Regions from separate parts of the Homo sapiens genome. Here region 1 is linked to region 2. Evidence: fine-mapped expression QTL. A gene starts in region 2. The other region holds a variant in brackets. All regions are shown on one strand. Distances are between the middles of the regions.

Evidence for each region.
Region 1: its variant is fine-mapped to the expression of TRIM52 in whole blood (TOPMed, PIP above 0.99).

Annotation. Positions count from the first base shown.
Region 1 is chr5:181,236,546-181,244,871 of GRCh38, reverse strand. RACK1 (receptor for activated C kinase 1) reads left to right here and starts at 966. Exons shown (of 8, transcript NM_006098.5): 1 at 966-1,180; 2 at 2,527-2,698; 3 at 3,233-3,380; 4 at 5,290-5,385; 5 at 5,695-5,805; 6 at 6,633-6,773; 7 at 7,153-7,263; 8 at 7,830-7,975. The coding sequence starts at 1,072. The coding sequence ends at 7,895. SNORD96A (small nucleolar RNA, C/D box 96A) reads left to right here and starts at 2,983; the gene lies at 2,983-3,054. SNORD95 (small nucleolar RNA, C/D box 95) reads left to right here and starts at 1,496; the gene lies at 1,496-1,558. RefSeq lists enhancers at 722-791, 872-1,011, 1,112-1,171, 3,303-3,352. The variant A/G (reference allele first, on the strand shown) is at 4,558.
Region 2 is chr5:181,257,672-181,265,997 of GRCh38, reverse strand. TRIM52 (tripartite motif containing 52) reads left to right here and starts at 4,855. Exons shown (of 2, transcript NM_001346048.2): 1 at 4,855-5,997. The coding sequence starts at 5,185. It overlaps TRIM52-AS1 (TRIM52 antisense RNA 1), which reads right to left and starts at 4,786. Exons shown (of 3, transcript NR_102762.1): 1 at 4,614-4,786. RefSeq lists enhancers at 1-524, 525-1,143, 4,875-4,924, 5,105-5,154 and silencers at 4,225-4,474, 4,585-4,734.

The DNA.
Region 1 (8,326 bases), 21 kb after region 2:
TGGCCTAGGCAGGAACGGATTGGCAGTCTAGCAACACACAGGGCAATTTTTACTTTATTATTTTATTGTATGTATGTATTTATTTATTTGAGTCGGAGTCTCGCTCTGCTGCCCAGGCTGGAGTGCAGTGGCGCGATCTCGGTTCACTGCAACCTCCGCCTCTCAGGTTCAAGGGATTCTCCTGCCTCAGCCTCCCGAGTAACTGGGATTACAGGCACCCCCCACCACGCCTGGCTAATTTTAATTTTTTTTATTTATTTATTTGGAAAGAGGTTGCATCATGTTGGCCAGGCTAGTCTTGAACTCCTGACCTTAAGTGATCCACCCGCCTCGGCCTCTCAAAGTGGTAGGATTACAGGCATGAGCCACCGCGCCCGGGAAAAAGAGACCAATTCTTAGTTCATCCAGAGTAACCCTCTCCTGCCTTAGTCCAGCCTGGACTAAGTCCTTCCGGAGTTGGTGTGCATCAGAACAAAAACCTCGTGAGGGGAGAACACCCTCCGGAAGCACAGTTTTAAAGTTTATTTTTAACATTTTAATACTCTACTTTTTAAATTGCCCATCGTTACCCACGATAGTGAAATGAAAATTAAGCTCCCCTGGGGTTGCCCCGTCAACCCTCCCCGCACCAAGTGGAACAGGCGGAGCTCGAGCTATGCCACATAGGGGCGGGGAAGCAGCCCGGCGGTCCTCATGGGAATGTGCCGTACACTTCACCTCTTTCGCTTCTCGCTCTACATCATCCCTGAGAAGCCTTTTTAAACACTTGAATGTGCTTGTTTCAGAGTGTATTTGTAAAGTGCAGTCAGATTTTGTTGTACGGAAGACGGGACTGTGATGCCTTGCAATTTCCCTCTGCCTTTTGCATTACATGGCGCCGCCATCTTGAGCAGAAATGTATCATGGGGCTCGCCATTTTGCATGGTCGAGCGGGTATTTCCGGTTCCGGCGGGGGGCTTTTCTCTCTCTCTTTCACTGCAAGGCGGCGGCAGGAGAGGTTGTGGTGCTAGTTTCTCTAAGCCATCCAGTGCCATCCTCGTCGCTGCAGCGACACACGCTCTCGCCGCCGCCATGACTGAGCAGATGACCCTTCGTGGCACCCTCAAGGGCCACAACGGCTGGGTAACCCAGATCGCTACTACCCCGCAGTTCCCGGACATGATCCTCTCCGCCTCTCGAGGTACGGACTAAGGTAGATTTCAGGACCCGAGATTGCAGGGCTGGGGGATTCCGCGTGTCGTGTAGGGAATTCCGCGTGTGGTGTGGCAGGCCGGTGGCGCGCGAGTTGGCGGGGACTGACAGACTTCTCTGCCCCATTGTGAATTGGGGCGTGCGGACCCGAGCCTAGGCCTCAACCCGGGCGAACCACATTGCAGATGAGAACCTACGTGTACATCAGCTCGCAGCTGCTAGGAGGGTTGGAGAGTTGGAAACTTTTAAAATATCTTTTGCCTTCTCCTTCGTAGTGTGGCCGGGGGCCTACGGGCCGGGCGGGGCGGTGATGACCCCAACATGCCATCTGAGTGTCGGTGCTGAAATCCAGAGGCTGTTTCTGAGCTGCCGCCCGGCCCAAGGCTCGTGGGGAGGCAGGTGGACTCCAGAGGACCTCGTGGCTCAAGTGTCGGCCTACTTTTTCTGCCCCTGGTTCTCCCCGTCCCTATCCCTGTGTTCCTGACTGCGTTTAGACGCTTCTTGTGCTTCCGCTTTGCTGCTACACTGTTAAGAATTGTCTGACTTTTGAATCATGTCTGGCTGTTAATCGTAAAATTTGTTGAGTGGGACAGGTTTCAGTAAAAGCATCCAATCCTGTAGCGCCTGAAGTGGCTTTTCCAGCATTCATTACTACATTTCTGTCGGCCCTCAGAGGTAGGCATAGGAGGCCCCAGCTACTCTACAGCCACAAACTGCTGTGCATTTGGTTGCAGAGAAGACACAAAGTGGCTGTTGAGTTCGTCTGAGTTTCAGGAAAGGGTGTCTGTATTTCTGGCACCTAAATTAAGTTCTCAGGATACAGGCTGGGCGCGGTGGCTCACGCCTATAATCCCAGCACTTTGGAAGGCAGAGGCGAGTGGATCACTTGAGATCAGGAGTTAGAGACTAGCCTGGCCAATGGTGAAACCGCATCTCTAGTTAAAAAATTAGCCAGACGTGCTGGCAGGTGCCAGCTGGCCAAGTAATCCCAGCTACTTGGGAGGCTGAGGCGGGAGAATTGCTTGAACACGGGAGGTGGAGTTTGGAGTGAGCCGAGATCATGCCACTGCACTCCAGCCTGGGCGACAGAGCGAGACTCCATCTCAAGAAAAAAAAAAGTTATCAGGGTACAGTTTACCTCTACGTGCGTTTTTAGTCTGGAATAGAGCCACTCAGTCCTGGTCTGTAACTGCTCTTGTCTGTTGTTTCCATCCCTCCTTAAGCGTCCTTAGTTGTTGTTAACCCACTCATGACCTTGACACTTAGTGAATTATCCAGTGTGTTAAACGGGCTGCGGGTTCCTCACTGATTTTTCTTCTGTTTTACCTCCTTTAGATAAGACCATCATCATGTGGAAACTGACCAGGGATGAGACCAACTATGGAATTCCACAGCGTGCTCTGCGGGGTCACTCCCACTTTGTTAGTGATGTGGTTATCTCCTCAGATGGCCAGTTTGCCCTCTCAGGCTCCTGGGATGGAACCCTGCGCCTCTGGGATCTCACAACGCAAGTAGCTGCTCACTTAGCTCTGGGGCCTTGGGAAGAATCTGGGCAGAAGTGAGGTGGATGCAATTGGCTGGTTTCCCAGGGGAGATCCAGTCCATTTGGGAACTGGAAAGCAGAGCACACCTACAGAAGATGTTTGGCCTCCCTCACTTTAAATAAGTTACTCAGCATTGCTGAGGAGTGTGGCTGAACATTTTTGCCAGGTGCAAAAGTTCTGAGTGGGCAGCAGTTTGAACATGTTTTACCTTGAAAGCTCAGGTAATTGGCAGGTGGAATTAGAGGGTCCTGGTGATGACAGATGGCATTGTCAGCCAATCCCCAAGTGGGAGTGAGGACATGTCCTGCAATTCTGAAGGGATTCTCTGTCACTTGGCTCTTCTCTTTCATATACTCAGTCACTTGACTCTGTGATCAGAGCCAAATCCAGGGTTGTATGAGTGATGCAATGAGACAGAGACAAAGCCCAGGAAATGAGTCTGACCGTTGAATGAGAGTGTTTGCTAAGTCTGAGAATGACAAACTCCTCCCTCTCAGGGGCACCACCACGAGGCGATTTGTGGGCCATACCAAGGATGTGCTGAGTGTGGCCTTCTCCTCTGACAACCGGCAGATTGTCTCTGGATCTCGAGATAAAACCATCAAGCTATGGAATACCCTGGGTGTGTGCAAATACACTGTCCAGGTAAAGTGAGCCATCTCCAAGGATCTCTTCCACCCTCTTAAACTTTGCTTTTTTTTTTTTTTTTTGGCGACAGTCTCACTCTTGCCCAAGCTGGAGTGCAGTGGCGCAGTCTCGGCTCACTGCAACCTCTGCCTCCCGGGCTCAAGGGATTCTGGTGCCTCAGTCTCCCGAGTAGCTGGTACTACAGGTGCGCAGCCACCACGCCTAGCTAATTTTTTGTGTTTTAGTAGAGACAGGGTTTCACCATGTTGCCCAGGGTGGTCTCAAACTCCTGGGCTCAGGCGATTTGCCTGCCTCGCCCTCCCAAAGTGTTGGGATTACAGGCGTGAGCCCCCACCTGCCTATCTTTGCCTTTTTTTTTTTTTTTCTCGGAGACAGTTTCGCTTGTTCCCCAGGCTGAAGTACAATGGCGTGATCTCGGCTGACCACAACCTCCGCCTCCTGGGTTCAAGCAGTTCTCCTGCCTCAGCCTCCCAAGTAGCTGGGATTAGAGGCATGCGCCACCATGCCCGGTTTTGTATTTTTAGTAGAGACAGGGTTTCTCCATGTTGGTCAGGCTGGTCTTGAACTCCCAACCTCAGGTGATCTGCCCGCCTCAGCCTCCCAAAGTGCTGGGATTATAAGCGTGAGCCACCGTCCCCCGCTTTCTTTGCCTTTTTAAAGTCTTGTCTGGGCTGGGCTCACGCCTGTAATCCTAGCTCTCTGGTAGGCCAAGGTGGGAGGACTGCTTGAGGACAGGAGAGCAGCCTGGCCAACATAGTGAGACCCCATCTATTTAAACAAAATTTTATTTATTTTTTTTCTTTTTTGAGATGGATTCTGGGCTAGATCGCAGATTTGGGATCGCAGATTGGGGGCTGGATCGGGGATTTGGGGATGGGTGGGGGGCGGTGAAAAGGTGAAAGGGAGTTGCCGCAGCTCAGAAGCCGATGGTTGGGTGTCTGAGAAGATTACAGGCGTGTGCCATCATGCCCAGCTAATTTTTGTATTTTTAGTAGAGATGGGGTTTCACCATGTTGGCCAGGCTGGTCTCAAACTCCTGACCTCAGGTGATCCGCCCGCCTCAGCCTCCCAAACTGCTGTGATAACAGGCGTGAGTCACCGTGCCCGGCCTTATCACTACTATTTTGTTTTGTTTTGAGACAGTCTCATTCTGTCGCCCAGGCTGGAGTGCAGT[A/G]GTGCGATCTCGGCTCACTGCAAGCTCTGCTTCCCGGGTTCACGCCATTCTCCTGCCTCAGCCTCCCGAGTCGCTGGGACTACAGGCGCCTGCCATCAGGTCTGGCTAATTTTTTGTATTTTTAGTAGAGACAGGGTTTCACCATGTTAGCCAAGATGGTCTTGATCTCCTGACCTCATGATCCATCCACCTTGGCTTCCTAAAGTGCTGGGATTACAGGCGTGAGCCACCACACCAGGCCCTATTATTATTATTATATTTTTTTTGGAGATGAAGTTTCACTTGTTCGTTGCCCAGGCTGGAGTGCAATGGCACAATCTTGGCTCATTGCACCCTTCGCTTCCTGGGTTTAAGCAGTGTTCCTGCCTGAGCCTCCCCAGTAGCTGGGATTACAGGCACCCGCCGCCACACCTGGTTAATTTTTGTATTTTTGGTAGAGACAGGGTTTCACCATTTTGGCCAGGCTGGTCTCAAACTCCTGACCTCAGGTGATCCACTTACCTCGCCCTCCCTGGGATTAGAGGCGTGAGCTTCTGCGTCCAGCCACCATCTCTAAATTTTTAAAAAATTTTCTTGTCTGGAATCTAAAGGGATTCTATTGAGCTTAAAGGTTTGGGTTCTTGGTTTTTGAAAGGTGCTGCCAGCCATCATCCTACTGAGGGGTAGGGCTGGGAGGTCTAGCATTTCATGGGATAGGACTGTTTGCCCTAATTTCCTTTCCATCTTCTGTAGGATGAGAGCCACTCAGAGTGGGTGTCTTGTGTCCGCTTCTCGCCCAACAGCAGCAACCCTATCATCGTCTCCTGTGGCTGGGACAAGCTGGTCAAGGTGAGCGTCAAGCCAAGGCAGGGGCTTTACCAGTCAGGGTGTGCTCCCAGGTGGTCATACACTCCAAGTCCTGTGGAAAGCTTTGCAGATGCCCTCAGTTGACTCTTTCTCTTGTCACATGGTCTGATGTCCCTTGTAAGTCAGCACACTGCATTGGATATGTGTTATAATCTAACGTGAAGTGGCCAGGACATGTTACTGAATGAGAAATGGCTACCGTATCCAGAAGTGCCAAGCCCTTTTTTGTTGGGCCTGACCCTAGCTCATCAAGAGCTAGGATGTTCACCTGTCAACCGCACGTCTATGCAGGTATGGAACCTGGCTAACTGCAAGCTGAAGACCAACCACATTGGCCACACAGGCTATCTGAACACGGTGACTGTCTCTCCAGATGGATCCCTCTGTGCTTCTGGAGGCAAGGTATTTGGGGACAAGGCGTCTCCTACTCAGTGGAAGACAGCGTCATGGAAGGAGCACTTAGCCAGCGTCTCTAACGTAAAATGGCAAACATTAGCCAAGATGGTTTTAGGAGGATAATGAGATAATGGCAATCTGAGAATATGTTTCCAAAGATTACTTTCAGCAAATGACAGTTAAGGCATACTATCTGGAAGAAAAAGATGATTTTCTATAAGCCTGTGGGTTTTTTTTGTTGTTTTTTTGTTTGTTTGTTTTTTGTTTTTTTTTTGAGACGGAGTCTCACTCGGCTGCCAAGGCTGGAGTGCAGTGGCGCGATCTCGGCTCACTGCAACCATCTCCCGGGTTCAAGCAATTCTCCCATCTCAGCCTCCCGAGTAGCTAGGATTACAGGCACCCGCCATCACTCCTGGGTAATTTTTGTATGTTAGTAGAGAGGATTTTACCATGTTGGCCAGGCTGGTCTTGAACTCCTGACCTCAGGTGATCCGCCCACCTCGGCTTCCCAAAGTGCTGGGATTACAGGCATGAGCCACCGCACCCAGCCTAAAGTTGGTTTCTTGAAGCAGTTGATGAGATTGGGATCCTGGTTTTCAGAAATGATTGGAGTGATTTATGTAAGTTGGGAGGGGTTTTTTGATGGGGTTGGTAAGGTCTTACGTTAAAGGAAAGGTATACAGAGATAAATATTGGTACTTGAGTCATTAGCTTTCAAAGAAGCCTGGGGTAATGGAGGAAAGGTAAGAATTGATTCTGACAGAATCTTGAGATGGGCAGAATTAACATCTGGAAGAGGTCACAGTGTCCTGATTTACCTTACCTGTGTCCAGGATGGCCAGGCCATGTTATGGGATCTCAACGAAGGCAAACACCTTTACACGCTAGATGGTGGGGACATCATCAACGCCCTGTGCTTCAGCCCTAACCGCTACTGGCTGTGTGCTGCCACAGGCCCCAGCATCAAGATCTGGGTGAGTGTGGGTTACAATTGACTGGGTACCTGGCTGCACTCTGAGCCCTGGCAATGTTTTGGTTATTATATATGCCATCTGACTCCCACCTGGGAGCTAAGCTTTCTCAGCCTCCACGTAATGACATTTTGGTCTGAGTAACTCTGTTGTGGTGTGCAGTCCTGTACATTCCAGGATGTTTAGCAGCATTTCCAGCTTCTACTAGATGTCAGTAGCAAACCATCCTTCCACTAGTGGCAACTGAAAATGCATGTAGGCATTGATACATGGACCCCAGGGAGCAAAATCATCCCTTTTTAACTTGAGAATCTTGAGGGGCTTTTAAGAGGAGACTCTCTTGATTGGTAAGTCTTAAGGTTGCTTTTGCCCTGTTCCCCAGGATTTAGAGGGAAAGATCATTGTAGATGAACTGAAGCAAGAAGTTATCAGTACCAGCAGCAAGGCAGAACCACCCCAGTGCACCTCCCTGGCCTGGTCTGCTGATGGCCAGGTAAGTGGGTCTGTCCTCTCAGGTGATTCTGCTTCCAGTTAATTTTCTCCCTCTCATTCTGTTAGTATATCTAGTCTGTCAGACACAAGAGCAGTGTCCTTGGCATAAAGTGAAATGACAAGCCAGGTTGATGAGGATGCCCTCGTTTGCCATGCCAGTGAATGTGTTTCTGCATCAGAGGGAAGACTGATGTGGAACGCAGTGGCTGTCAGCCTTCAATTAATACCTTAATTAATCTGACCAGTTTTCAAATGTCTGGAGCCTTATCACCAGCTGTTTCTTCCTCAAGGAATACATAACCACCACTTACAAGCTGGCTGTTGAAATGAGAGCGGTTTCTTACAGTCTACCCGGCGTTGTGGCACATGCCTACTGGAGGCTGAGGTGGGAGGATCTCTTGAACTGCAGGGGCTTAAGGCTGTAGTGAGCCAGGATCGCACCCCTGCACTCCAGCCTAGACAATGGAGCAAGGTGGACGGATCTCAAAAAAAGCCACTTGGGCTGAATCTAGTGAGACTGCAGAATTTATGCCAGCCTGACCTGTCACTGTCATTTCTTCCCTGCAGACTCTGTTTGCTGGCTACACGGACAACCTGGTGCGAGTGTGGCAGGTGACCATTGGCACACGCTAGAAGTTTATGGCAGAGCTTTACAAATAAAAAAAAAACTGGCTTTTCTGACTTTTAGGTTTTTTTTTCTTATATGCAAAAAAGCTCCATTCTATCTACATTGCTTACACATTAAGTTTGCACTAGCGAACTGGATGCAAGGTATGGACTAAGTAAACAAGGCTTTGAAGGGGAGCTGTCCGTCTAAGTTCTCAGGATTGGGGTAGCATCAGGTGGGATGTTTGTGAGAAGTCACATAGCAGTTTCCCTGAACTTAAACCCCATCAGCGTCCTACATACCACGTGCAGATCATCAGGGCCTACCTTCAACCTGGGGAACCTTCTTGAGGGAAAGAACTGATTTCAAAGTGGTTGCAGTCAATTTTTAGAAAAAGCAGACTCCGCAGGTCCAACCCCTGACACGTAAGAGTGGAAGATGAATCCTCATTCCTCTA
Region 2 (8,326 bases):
GGCTGTAACCTGGGCCTTGGGAGTCAACCCCAGCTCTCTCCTGACCTTCTCCCATCCTGGTCCCCCGTCTCCTGTCCTCAGGGAAGGTACCGATGCAGGGAACTCAGGAGCAGGGTGTTTTGATCTTCACTCTGATTAGGGGAAGAACCTGAGCTCAGTCTCCTTCTCCCACCACCTGCCTGGCCTGAAATTCCCACAAACCTAGGAGCCCTTTGGAATTGATGATGATGCATGCAGGGGCCCTCTCTCCTACTGCAGCCAGAGATTGGATGGACAGAGGGGCCAGGCCACTCCACCTCGTGTCCTCTCCCTGGTGCATGGGCCGGGAAGAGTGAAGGGGCTGTGTGCTTAAGGCCTAGCGCTGCAGAGGCTCCGAGAAAACCAGCTCCAGCCCCTGCTCCTCTCAGCCTCATCTAATTTACGGCCAGGCAGGGCAGGGGTTCTGTCTCTTGGGGCCGAGACCCTGGGAGCCTGCAGGACCCTGCCCGCAATGCACTGCAGCTCACTCCCTCTAGCCCTCTTCCGTGTTTTCCCAGGCCAGGACCAACAGTGCCTTCCCCCGAGTTAGTCTCAGTGAGCTACTGCCAAGAGCAATTCAGTGCACAGCCACACTTCTCCCTAACCTAGAGCCCACTCCTCCTCTGCCAGCAGCATTGCCCCGGGCCTCCTCCCCGTTAAAGACTGTGGAGAGGAGGAGCCTAGAGAGCCCTAGCTGAGGCTGTCAAACCCTCGGCGTGGGCAGCTGGCAGGTTGACCCCTGACCCCGGCTTTTTGCCTTGAGGGGAGGCTGTGTGGTTCGTTCGCTGGTGTGACAGCGCAGGGCAAGGAGAAGGTGAGAAGACGCAGGGAGGCAGCGTGGGCCGCAGTCACACTTCTGCTACACCCACATCTGTGAGCTTCTCCACAAAGAGGAGAAAGAAGACAAGGCTAGGGTTGGGCCTTCCCCTTGGCTTTTTTTTTTTTTTTTTTTTTTTTTGAGATGGAGTCTCTCTGTCGCCCAGGCTGGAGTGCAGTGGCGCCATCTCGGCTCGCTGCCAGCTCTACCTCCCGGGTTCACGCCATTCTCCTGCCTCAGCCTCCCAAGTAGCTGGGACTACAGGCGCCTGCCACCACACCCAGCTAATTTTTTGTATTTTTAGTAGAGACGGGGTTTCACCGTGTTAGCCAGGATGGTCTCAATCTCCTGACCTCGTGATCTGCCCGCCTCCGTCTCCTAAAGTGCTGGGATTACAGTCATAAGCCACTGTGCCTGGCCAGGATTTTTTTTTTTTAAGATTGCATGTTGTTCTGTTGCCCAGGCTGAGGGCAGTGGCACCATCACTGCTTACTGCAGCCTTGACCTCCTGGGCTCAAATGATCCTCCCAATTCAGCCTCCCAAGTAGCTGGAACTACAGGCGCACACCATCACACGCAGGTAATTTTTAATTTTTTTAATTTATTTTTATTATTTTTGAGATGGAGTCTCACTCTGTTGCCCAGGCTGGAGTGCAGCAGCATGATCTTGGCTCACTGCAACCTCCACCTCCTAGGTTCACGCAATTCTTCCTCAGCCTCGCAAGTAGCTGGGATTACAGGCACCTGCCGCCACGCCTGGCTAATTTTTGTATTTTTAGTAGTGACGGGGTTTCACCATGTTGGCCAGGCTGGTCTCAAACTCCTGACCTCAAGTGATCCACCCGCCTCAGCCTCCAAAATTGCTGGGATTACAGACATGAGCCACCGCACCCAGCCAATTTTCTTTTTTTTTTTTTTTGTGGAGATGGGGTCTCATGACGTTGCCCAGGCTGGTCTCAAACAGCTGGCTCAAACAATCCTCCCATCTTGGCCTCTTAAAGCACTGGGATTACATGAGTGAGGCACCACACCTGGCCAAGAATTTCCTTAAAGCCTATGAAGTGGTGAGCCTTTCATTTCATGTGGAAGGTTCTGGTGGCTGCAGGATGGCCTGAAATGAGAGAGCAAGTGATCCTTTAGAGAAATGGTTTCCTTTTATCCAGTCTGAAGCTGATGGGGGTGAAATCTGGAGTGGCAGAAGTAAGGCTGGAAAGGAGGAGCTAGATCGGAGGAGAAACATCAGCAGGACTTGGCTGAAATGTGTTGGGTTTGTTCATTCGTTTATTTACTCAGCAGATACACAGGGAGTGCTCGCTGTGTGCTTGGCACTGTGGTCAAGGAACTGAGTATGCAACAAAGAAGAGAACACATACAGTCCTTGCTCTGTGCCACTCACAGTTTGGCACAGGTCCGGAGAGGAAGAGGAGGGCTCCAAGGTGTGCTCAAGGTTCCACTGGGACAGTGGTGTCCTCCCCAAACCAATGACCAATTAGTGAGGGGTGCAGTCATGCCCGTGGGCCTTCAACAGCATTTTACTGAAATAAAACAGAAAATATCAGAGTGCTTTGGATGTCATAAGGGAAAGAACACTGCAGAAATTTTCTTTCTGTTATATATGTGCAGGTCTATATTGGATCAGTATGTGCAATGTACTTCTTATTGAAGGGCAGGTAAAGAAAGAAAAAAAACCTTGTATGGGGCTGAGCGTAGTGGCTCACATCTGTAATTCCCGCACTTTGTAAGGCTGAGGCAGGACTGCTTAAACCAGGAGTTCAAGACTAGCCTGGGCAACATAGCAGGACCTCATCTCTACAAAAAAAAAAATAATAAAAATTAGCCAGATGTGGTAATGCACACCTGTAGTCCCAGCTACTTGGGAGGCTGAGGCAGGATGATCACTTGAGCCCAGGGGTCAAGGGTGCAATGAGCCATGATCATACCACTGCATTTGGCCTGGGCAACAGAGCAAGACCCTCTCTCAAAAAAAAAAAAAATCTAAAAGAGAATGGGTAAATCAGGCATAGTGGTGCATGCCTGTAGTCCCAGCTACTCCACAGGCTGAGGCGGGAGGATCACTTGAGTCCAGGAGTTTGAGGTGGTAGGGTGCAATAATCGTGACTATAAATAGCCACGGCACTTTAGCCTGGGCAACATGACGAAACCCTGTCTCTATAAAAAAATAAAGAAATTAGCCTGGAGTGGTGGTGCATGCCTGTGTTCCCAGCTATTCCAGAAGCTGAAGTGGGAGGACTGCTTGAGCCCAGGAGGTGGAGATTGCTGTGGGCCCAGATCGTGCCACTGCAGGGGGCTACAGGAGTCTAAAAGGGAGGGGACACAATTTCCCCAAATCTCCAATGTTGAGGAGTTCTGCCTACACTCCTTGCCCCAGGATGCCCCCAGCACCAAGGCCAAGAGGGTGTCTTGGCCCTCAGCACTGGGGTAGAACATCTGTACACAGAACCAGGCCACAGGAGAAGGCATACACAGAGCCCATGAGCACCAGCCCCTCTGAGCTGCGTCCAGCCCCCATCTCCATCCTCTGTTCTCTGGGACTACAAATCCAGGCCTGACCTGGTTCTATCCCTACCTGCAGAGACAGAAGACAGAAGGAGACAACCCCTGAGAAGCCTTTCCCCAGGGCCTGATTCCCCCTCCCACTGTAAGATCTCTCAGCCCGCACTTTGGGAGGCCGAGGTGGGCGGATCACGAGGTCAGGAAATCGAGACCATCCTGGCTAACAGGGTGAAACCCCGTTTCTACTAAAAATACAAAAAAAAAAAAATTAGCCGGGCGTGGTGGCGGGCGCCTGTAGTCCCAGCTACTCGGGAGGCTGAGGCAGGAGAGTGGCGTGAACCTGGGAGGCGGAGCTTGCAGTGAGCCGAGATCGCGCCACTGCACTGCATCCTGGGCAACAGCCAGACTCCATCTCAAAAAAAAAAAAAAAAAAAAAAACCTCTCAGCCCTGGATCAGGTCCCCTCTCCAGGAAAGGTGACAGAGTGGAGTCTAAATGACACTGCCCTAGGGCCCCGCTGGGGTGGAAAACAGACCCAGACAGCGCCCCCAGCCCTCCCTCCCCAGGGAGGAGTGAAGGGCATAACAGACAGCGGAGGACACCGGGACAGGAAGGAGGGGCCAGCCGCTCTCAAACTAAGTCTAAACCACGGCGGTGAGGAAGTGTGGTCCCAAATCCAGCCCCCTCCCGGCCGAGCTCACAGAGCTCAGGGCTGGAACTCGGAACCCTGGCCCGACGCAGGCGGCAGCACCGAAGGGAACTTGAGCCCCGGCCCCCTCAGGGGACCCACGACCGGGGCGCAGCTTTGCTGGCAGACGCCGCAATACTGCGCAGCCGCGGCCCCGCAAGCAGAAACAGGGCTGGGTCTGAGGCCTACGTGGAGCTGGGGCCCGACGGCTCACGGAAGGCAGCGGGGGGCACTGGGCGCCCCGGATCCGAGCCTCCCGGGCGGCAGGCCCTCCCAGCTGTGCGGCGCCCGGATCCCCACAAAGGCACCCCAAGCGCGGACGGCGGGACGGGCGACAGCACCAGGGTGGTGTCCCAGGCTTCCCCACCGCCGCGGACCAACTCGGCCCCGGCCCGGGCGGGGCTTCCGGAGAGATTTATCCCCCTTCCCTCTAACCTTCCTGGGGCTCCGGCTCAGGCTGGACAACGGCTCGGAGACCCAGTCCCCCTCAAGTGTTGACCCCCCCACCATCTAGAACCAGCCAACCCACCAAACCACCTCTCCCAAGCCGGGCCTCTTCCCGGCGTCCGCCGCTGACCTGATCAGAGCCGCTCTGCCGGCCCGAGGGAGCTGAGAAGGGGCTTGGGAATGGGGTCTTGAGGAGGGGCTGGCCGGAATGTGCAGCACTAGCCCAGCTGGAGCGGGCGGCGCGGGCGCGCCTGTCCCCCAGCCCACCCAACTCCCGGCCCGCGCGGCCCCCGGCACACCATAGAGACGTGGTCCTCCGCCGGCCTAGAGCGTCTCTCCAGAGCGTGTGCAGGAGCGAGACGTCATTTTGCGTCGCCTCGGGCAGGGTAGCCAGCGGCTGCATCTGAGGCGGACGCCGCAGTGTAGGGCACACCCTGAGGGTAGCGAGAGACGTGACAGGACCGAGCAGCTGGGGGCTGCAGCCTGCTCTGTCCCCACCGATCCCAGAGAGAGGCTGTGAGTCTGGATCTGGGCGTTCGCACCCTGAGAGAGGGGGTCAAAGCTCCCCTGCGGCCCCGAGGAAGAAGAGCAAGGTTGAGGACAGCCTCGGGTCACCAGAGTAGTTTGGAGGCAGGCCTGCAGGCGCGTCCCCGCTCCTCAGCTCCAAGCTGACGTATCTACACCTGCCGGCGGGCATTAAGATGGCTGGTTATGCCACTACTCCCAGCCCCATGCAGACCCTTCAGGAGGAAGCGGTGTGTGCCATCTGCTTGGATTACTTCAAGGACCCCGTGTCCATCAGCTGTGGGCACAACTTCTGCCGAGGGTGTGTGACCCAGCTGTGGAGTAAGGAGGACGAGGAGGACCAGAACGAGGAGGAAGATGAATGGGAGGAGGAGGAGGACGAGGAAGCGGTGGGGGCCATGGATGGATGGGACGGCTCCATTCGAGAGGTGTTGTATCGGGGGAATGCTGACGAAGAGTTGTTCCAAGACCAAGATGACGATGAACTCTGGCTCGGTGACAGTGGTATAACTAATTGGGACAACGTAGACTATATGTGGGACGAGGAGGAAGAAGAAGAAGAGGAAGATCAGGACTATTACCTAGGAGGCTTGAGACCTGACCTGAGAATTGATGTCTACCGAGAAGAAGAAATACTGGAAGCATACGATGAGGACGAAGATGAAGAGCTGTATCCTGACATCCACCCGCCTCCTTCCTTGCCCCTTCCAGGGCAGTTCACCTGCCCCCAGTGCCGAAAGAGCTTTACACGTCGCAGCTTTCGTCCCAACTTGCAGCTGGCCAACATGGTCCAGATAATTCGCCAGATGTGCCCCACTCCTTATCGGGGAAACCGGAGTAATGATCAGGGCATGTGCTTTAAACACCAGGAAGCCCTGAAACTCTTCTGTGAGGTGGACAAAGAGGCCATCTGTGTGGTGTGCCGAGAATCCAGGAGCCACAAACAGCACAGCGTGCTGCCTTTGGAGGAGGTGGTGCAGGAGTACCAGGTGAGAGAAATGAGGGAATGTGGGGGGATGAAGGGAGTGGAAAGGTAACTAGGAGAGCTGAGGAATGAGTAGCATTCCTTTCCCACCTCCTCAGGTACTTAGTTGCTAAACTTCTCTTTATTTGATGAGGGAGACACGGTGGAGAGAGATGGTCATATGGGTAAAAAAGGAGACACAAAACCATGAAGATTGGGGCAGATTGGCTTCCCCAGAGGAAGCTGAACAGATAATATGACGGTCACTGGAAGCGGACCACTACTGCTAATACTGGCAGTCTACCTAAGTGTAAGGGACGTGAGTAACAGATACCCAGTACTTCATTTCTCCCTAATGTGAGTCCTTGACCAATTCCCTGGGACAGGTACAGATAGGAATAGAAAGCCACAGTACTTGGAGATAATAGACATTTGGGACCTCAGCACAAGCAGTGTCAAAATAGATGTATTGGTAGACAGAAATGCCAGATGTGAGTCCTAAACTACTGATAGCAATTGGCCACACCCCCCCTCTGAAAGTCTGGGATTGCATCTCTACCTTCAGTGGGGTCCGTTTTCCTTCTAGAGAAAGGCAAAGCATATAAGCATCTTTGATGGATCAGAATGTGCCTCATATCCTGATCACTTTTCTTTCCTGGTATTTTATCATAGTGGAAGGAGTGCGGGATTTAGGATCAGATGACCTGGCTCTGCCACTTACTGTCTAGTCTTGGGCAGGTGTCAACCTCCTTGAGCTTCACTTTTTCCCTAGGATTGTAAGGATTAAAAGAGATCATATATGTTAACCATAAAGCACTAAACAAATGTTTGCTGTTTTATTTGGCTTTCTTGTAACTTGTCTTCCCTTGTTTGGGTGCTGATATGGTTAATGCCTTGCTTTCTAGTCTTGACTTCTAAGCATTAGATAATTGTCTCAATGACAATGAGCATGAGTACCATCTTCCTTACCAAAAGTCTAGGTAGATTTGACTCCTAGCAGTGCCCAAACGAAGGAGAGGTTGTCTTCAGGCCCATAAAGGTTGACCTGGATATGCAGCAGCCGCTGCTCACGTCTTAGTAGTGCTTTACAGTTTATAAAATATATTTCCTCGTGTTCTCCTATAGCAGTGGTTTTCAAATTGTTTTTTGACCAATTAGTGTGTCTTAAAATAAATGGGTCATGCCTAGCATTATCTCAAAATGAAGTAAGAGAAAATATTAGAACACATGGAACATAGTAAGGGTAAGTACTGCTTTATGAAACTTTTAAGTTATATATATATACATGTATATACTTCATCTAAAAATATATTGCTTTCTTTGAGTTGCAGTCAAAACACAAACACAGAGCACTGTCCTACAGGCTTCATGTATTAGATATTATTATCACCCCCCTGCCCCCATTTTATAGCAAATATTGGGAAGTGCACAGTTAAGGCACAAATCTAACCATAAGTCACTGCTACCTCTGTTACATTAACCTGACTTGAAGGACAAATCCTAGTACCATGTTTTCACCCAAGGTGATAACTAAAGTATCCCATGGAAAAAACTTATGTCCTATGCTTCTGGGTTTTAGTATACTGAAGCTGAGGAAAAGAGAGAACCTTCCATTTCTCTTCTAACTTTTTTTTTTGAGACGGTATCTTGCTCTGTTGCCCAGGCAGAAGTGCAATGGCATGATCTCGGCTCACTGCAACCTCCGTTTCCCGGGTTCAAGCGATCCTCCTGCCTCAGCACCCCTAGTAGTTGCGATTACAGGCACATGCCACCATGCCCAGCTAATTTTGCATTTTTAGTAGAGATGGGGTTTCACCATGTTGGCCAGGCTGGTCTTGAACTCCTGACCTCAGGAGATCCACCACCTGGGCCTCCCAAAGTGCTGGGATTACAGGCATGAGCCACTGTGCCCAGCCTTCCTCAGCTAACTTTTATCATCATCCCCTTCCCCCATTTTATAGTAAATATTGTTAAGTGCACAGTTAAGACACAAATCTTTTTTTATTTTTATTTATTTATTTATTTACTTATTTATTTGAGCTGGAGTCTCGCTCTGTCATCAGGCTAGAGTGCAGTGGTGCGATCTCGGCTCACTGCAACCTACGCCTCCCGAGTTCAAGCGATTTTCCTGCCTCAGCCTCCCAAGTAGCTGGGAATACAGGTGCGCACCACCATGCCCAGCTAATTTTTGCATTTTTAGTGTAGACGGGGTTTCACCATGTTGGCCAGGATGGTCTCAATCTCTTGACCTCCTGATCCCCCCGCCTCGGCCTCCCAAAGTGCTGGGATTACAGATGTGAGCCACCATGCCTGGGTGTCTCTTTCATTCTTTAGGCAGTTCATTGTCACTTCCT